Regions from separate parts of the Homo sapiens genome. Here region 1 is linked to region 2. Evidence: fine-mapped expression QTL. A gene starts in region 2. The other region holds a variant in brackets. All regions are shown on one strand. Distances are from middle to middle.

Region 1 (2,912 bases), 25 kb before region 2:
TTCTCAGCCCTCAAAGGATCTTGCAGTTTAGTGGTCAGAGAGACATATAATGCAAACCATGTAGGCATACAGTAAGGAAAGTCCTATAATGAAGGACTTTAAGTGCAGTGGCAGTTAGGTGAAGGAGCACCTGAGGGGAAGCCTTCACAGGGACCATTTGAGATGGGACATGAAGCATGAGTAGGAGTTGGCCAGTGGACATCAGTGGTGTGGGCATTCCAGGCATGCATAGAAGCACAAAGTCCTGAGAGGATGGCAGAATAACTGGAACACAAAGTGTCAGAGTGGGAGATGCTTTGGGGACAGTTAAAGAGACGCACAGGTAGGGGACCAGGAAGGCCTCCTGTATCCTACAGAGGTTCCTGTGAGAGATAATAAGGACTCAAATTCAGACAGGGGCCAATGAGAGGGAACCCAGCAGATGGAGGAGTTGGCCAGGAGCAGTGAGTGCAGTGACACGGTTACACCTGTTTCTCAGGTGATAGGAGACGTGCCCAGGTGCTGCTCTGCTTATCGATATAGTTCCTCTCTGAAAGTTAAATGGTCTTTTATGGGTACTTCACGTATTTTTACTGTGTTTTCAGGGGATAACAACTATCACCAAAAACGTGTCATTTCATTGTTTTATTGAAAGTTACTGAAAAGGAAATGCATTTTAGGTAGTTTCCATCAGTCAGAACTACGAAAACAAAACCAAACCTTAAGAATACAGATGATCCCCAACTTAGGATGGTGTGAAAGTGATACACATTCAATAGAAACCATACTTTGCATTTGGGGTTTTGATTTTTTCCAAGGCTAGTGATAGGTGGTGAAATACTCTAGCAATTCTGGGCAGCAGCAGTAACCTGCAGCTCCCAGTCAGCCATGTGATCTCAAAACAACCAGTACCCTACGGTGTCCTCTGTTGCCAGATGACTTTCCCCACCTGTAGGCTAAGTGTGTGTTCTGAGCACATTTAAGGTAGTGTAGGCTAAGAGTGGTTACGTTCAGTAGATTAGGTGCATTAAATGCATTTTCAACTTAAGACGTTTTCAACTTAACAATGGGTTTACTGGGCTATAACCCATCATATGTCAAGGAACATCTGTATTTAGCTTAGTTCTGTGATTTACTTTTAAAAAGAACACCTAAATGCACAATTTTTGGCTAAAATGTCAGATTTTTAACCATGAACTTGGGATTTTTACCCCATTTTTCTCTTTCCATTAAAAAAAAAATTTGAAAGGCGCTTCTAAGATAAATTTTTAAGATTAGATCCCGGCC[G/A]GGCACAGTGACTGACGCCTGTAATCCCAACACTTTGGGAGGCTGAGGTGGGTAGATCACCTGAGGTCAGGAGTTTGAGACCAGCCTGACTAATATGGTAAAACTCTGTCTCTACTAAAAATTCAAAAAATTAGCTGGGCATAGTGGCATGCACCTGCAGTTTAGTCCCAGCTACTTGGGAGGCTGAGACAGGAGAATTGCTTGAACCCGGGAGGCGGAGGTTGCAGTGAGCCAAGATTGCGCCATTGCACTCCAGCCTGGGCGACACAGCGAGACTTCGTCTCAAAAAAAAAAAAAAAAAAAAAGATTAGATCCCTACATAATGCAAGGCATTATTCAACATTTTTTAACACTTTCTTATAAACATTAAGTGAATTCATGGTACATATACTCAGTAAATAGAACTTTTAATTCCAATTCCATTATAATCTGACTCTAATTAAAAATCCTTAAAGGAGATAGGGGAGTTCAAATATCCCACTGCTCTAGATGTGTCCAAATGAATGTCCTCCATGGGCACTTCAAACTCAACATTTTCAAACATGTCTTTCAGCCCAGACCTGACCCAGGGAGGCAGTATTATGATGATTCCCAGGAGTGTTACAAAACAAATAATATTCCTTTTTGATTTTAAAAAATTGCATTAAAATCAATTATAAGGTAGAAAATACGTGTGGATAGATTTATTTTTACTAAGTTATATCCTTCAGTGGGCTCTTTATTTGAAATATTACTAGGACTTTATGTACATGTTTTGCCTCTTGAAAGTACTATTCCATTACTGACCATTTTGTTATTATTCATTCTGTTTTCTTCCTAAAAAGTGGATAGACAGGAAATCACCTCCTCTCACCCACCCACCCTTTTTTATGAGGACAATGACACTGAGTAATTGATTGTCTTAGGCATAGCCACACACCTGAGTAGAGCAAATACTAATAGCCAGACTTCCTGACTCCCAAACCATTACTTCTTTTTTCCTTCACCTTTGCAGAAGAGAAAGAAATTGGTGCCATGAGCCTGGGCCTAAAGAACTGTTCATTCAGTAAATAATTATAAGGTGTCTTCTATATGCCAGATATTATTTTCAACATGGGGACTTCTGCACCTAACAGTCCCTGCCTTTAAAGGAGCTGGTGGCTAATGGGAAAGTAAGTGGAGTAAACAAACGAACCCAGCTCCATGAATGAAGAAAACTGGGAGAGGCAAGGCCAGAGTCTAATGAAGGCTGGAGAGAGCCCTAAGCCAGTCTGGGAGTTAAGAAAAGCTTCCTGGTGGAGCCGACTTCTAGTTAGAGTGTTGAAAATGACCCAGAGTTGCTGGGCTAGAGGGTACTGAGTTTGCATGCATGGGAGATAGAGTGTCAAGAACTCCCAGTATTAAGAGTATTAAGATCTGGGCCAACAAATTGGCCTTAGAGGTATGGGCTCTGGGAGAGGAGGCTGGAATAGGAAGGAAAACAGAGAAAGGATCTGTTTGAATAATTAGGGCTTAGAATTTGTATTGTAAACAAACAATGGTGAGCTGTTGAAGAATTTTGAGGAGGGAATGATAATCAGATTTCCATTTTTAAACTGTTGCCCTGAAGTGATTTGGAGAATGAAGTGAGGGTTGGGGATGTGAGTTAGGAGAGCCATTATTGATGA
Region 2 (2,912 bases):
CAGGTGCCACTTAATGCATTCATGTCCTGGGCCTCCTGAGCGTCACACAAATTAGTGAAACCCAACAGGGGGATTTGCTCTGACAAGCAGCAATAAAAGTAAAGCTGCTGTCTGTATTGGCAGTAAACTACCTGTGACACTGAGATATGCCTTCTGTGTCTGGCTTATTACTCTATCATGTTCCTAAACTGGCTTGTCACAAACGCCTGTTACAAAAATCAGATTCCTGGCCTCCATGTCAGACCTAATGAATCCAAATCTCTCGGCACGTGGGTTTTGATTACTTTTTATTTTTAAGCTCCTCAGCAATGATGGATAGCTTTCTCCCCCCCCCCCCAAAAAAAATGTTTCAGGAATAGGATTATGTTTCTTTTAAGAAAAAATAATTTAAGCAAGTTTTGTAAAAAGCATCAAAGGCTATACCTATGATGCTGACAATATTTCACCTCACTTATCTGCTTCTTTCCCAAGACTTAGTCTTTCTCTTTGAAGGAGCTGTGTTCCTCCTAGTGGTTCTGATCTTTTTCATTGCAGCTGCAGGTACAAACGAGGGATTGAGGTGACCACCCTTCAACCTGCAGCTCTTCAGTCAACAAAAATCAAGTACCTATCAGAGTGCACCCTGCCCTGCAGCACATATTCAAGGCTTTCCCTACAAAAACAAAGGTGTTTAACCGAAGGGATTGATGGTAGAATAAAGAGAGCTGGGCGCGGTGGCTCATGCCTGTAATCCCAGCACTTTGGGAGGCGAGGTGGGCGGATCGCTTGACCCCAGGAATTCGAGACCAGCTTGGGCAACATAGTGGGACACTATCTCTACGGAAGGAGGGAAGTAGGGAAGGAAGGAAGGAAGCAAGGAGGGAAGGAGGGACGGAGGGAAGGAGGGAAGGAAGGAAGGAAAAAGAAAAGAAAGGAAAGAAAGAAAGGAAAGAAAGAAAGAGAAAGATTGATTTTAAAAAAGAGTTAAAAGGGGAAAAATACAATGTGGCAGTGGGAGAATTAAGGATGAGATGATTGCATTAGTTCATTGACCATCCCTGAGCAACAGAAACACAATCATGGGTAATCCTCGGCCCCTGCCTACAAGAAGCATGGGTCTAGTTTAGTAGCACTGCCAACTGGACCGACCATTTACACTTCTGTGTGAAATGGGGCAGAGGGGGGAGAAAAGAGTGCCTGAGCTCACAGCGTTGGCGGGGCGCAGTGAGGTCCGCCAGGACTAGGTGGAAGGAGAGAAGGAACGTCCCTCTCTGCAACTCATCTAAGGGCCTGCTCGGACCCCGGATCTCACAGCGAGAACTACCGCCTCGCTACACCCGCCTTTCCCCGCGCCACCCAACAGCTCCCACGTCTCATCCTCCGGGAGCGGGGCGGGGCGAAGCGGAAGAGGAGGGGCCGACACAACCACGCCCACTAGCCGCGCTCCAAGGCCGCGGCCCACTTACCGCGAGAACGCGGAGTCCTGCGGATGGCGCACGCGCAAACCTCCTGTGATGCCTGCGCCTCCTGGCCCCGCCTTCCGCTCGTGGGAGTTCCGGATGTTTAGCGTTACCATGGATCCTGGAGGTGCCCGCGAACACTGCTTGTCGCCTGGGCAACCGGAGAGGACGAAGCAGGACCTAGGTGGCGGCGGTGGTACCGGCTGCAATGGTGTCCAATCCCGTGCATGGCTTGCCCTTTCTTCCGGGCACGTCCTTTAAGGACTCTACGGTGAGCAGTTATCTGCCAGACTCCCACCTGTCCCCACCTTCCAGCAGCCCAGGAGGTTTCCCCGCTCAGTGCACCTCCATTCCCCTCCACTCAAGTCTGTCTTCTCTCCAAACACGTCTTCTGTCCTGACCCTGTTCTTTATTCTGGGCCGAACTTCTGCCGTTCTTCCCTAGCCATCCTCATCCCCTCTCTCCGATCCTTTGCCCTCCGCCTCATCCCTCTCTAGTTTTTTCCCACTCCATCTTGGCAGTGTGTTGGCGCCTTCATTCTCATCCCGTTAGCCGCGTTCTTTCTTACGGCCCTGCTCCTCCAAGCCCCTGCCTCTTGTCCCTTTAGATCACTGTTTCCCCCACCCTACTCCCAACCTATCTCTGGGCCCTCTCCCTAGCTCGTTCTCTCACATCATAACCTGTCTCCGTCCATCGCCGCCCTTAAAACCCCCCGCCACTATGCACCTTCAACCTCATTCCCACAGGTCCGTCATTCCCGCCCCACCTCTTCCTCTTCTGAATCCTGTACCCGGTAGTATCTCCCACTCCCAGCTCCATTTCCTGTTTTGTATGTATATCGATTCCGCTCCTCTTCTTTCCGCCAGGTCTTTTTCCTTTCTTCTTTATGCTTGCATCCAACCCCATTCTTTTTTCTCCATCTTCTACATTTTCCACAATTTAGTCCCATCCTCTCCCCATTCCTTTCTTTCTCCGTTGCGGGTTTTCCCCAAAACTTGCTCACCTTCCTCCCAAAGCATCTTTCCCTGCTTTGTAAGAGATATTCCTTTCCAGTTCCCTCAAGAATTGATTAGTTGCTGTTTATTCTTCCCCGGCCCTGTTCTTTTTATTCTAACGTTTTTGTAAAAAGATTCCTGTTTAGATTTTGTTTTGCTCCTTCCCCAACCTTGTGTTTTTATTTGCATTTTCTAGACAAAATTTTTTAAAAAGTAGCAGCAGCTTGGATTCTTTTTTTTTTTTAAACTCTTGCCACAGTTTAGCTCTTAAAATTATTTGGTTTGTTTTAATTCTGACAGGGCTACTGAAATGTATGTGCTGAAAAATCAATAATGAGATTCAGTAGACTGATCATCATAGATGAGCTAACAGTAGTTTATGTTTATATAGTTTAATACTTTAAACTCTTGCCTTCCTCTCCAGCTTCACAAAGTTAAAATATTTTGTCAATTTATTTTCTTTGGAAGAATCAATTTA

Evidence for each region.
Region 1: its variant is fine-mapped to the expression of EFHC1 in blood mononuclear cells (TOPMed, PIP above 0.99).

Annotation. Positions count from the first base shown.
Region 1 is chr6:52,393,723-52,396,634 of GRCh38, forward strand. All of the region lies in intron 1 of PAQR8 (progestin and adipoQ receptor family member 8), which reads left to right. Among named protein-coding and RNA genes, the nearest start is that of EFHC1, 25 kb to the right of the region's middle. The variant G/A (reference allele first, on the strand shown) is at 1,267.
Region 2 is chr6:52,418,764-52,421,675 of GRCh38, forward strand. EFHC1 (EF-hand domain containing 1) reads left to right here and starts at 1,579. Exons shown (of 11, transcript NM_018100.4): 1 at 1,579-1,710. The coding sequence starts at 1,648. LOC124901331 (a long non-coding RNA gene) reads right to left here and starts at 2,218. Exons shown (of 2, transcript XR_007059611.1): 1 at 1,446-2,218. RefSeq lists an enhancer at 1,548-2,139.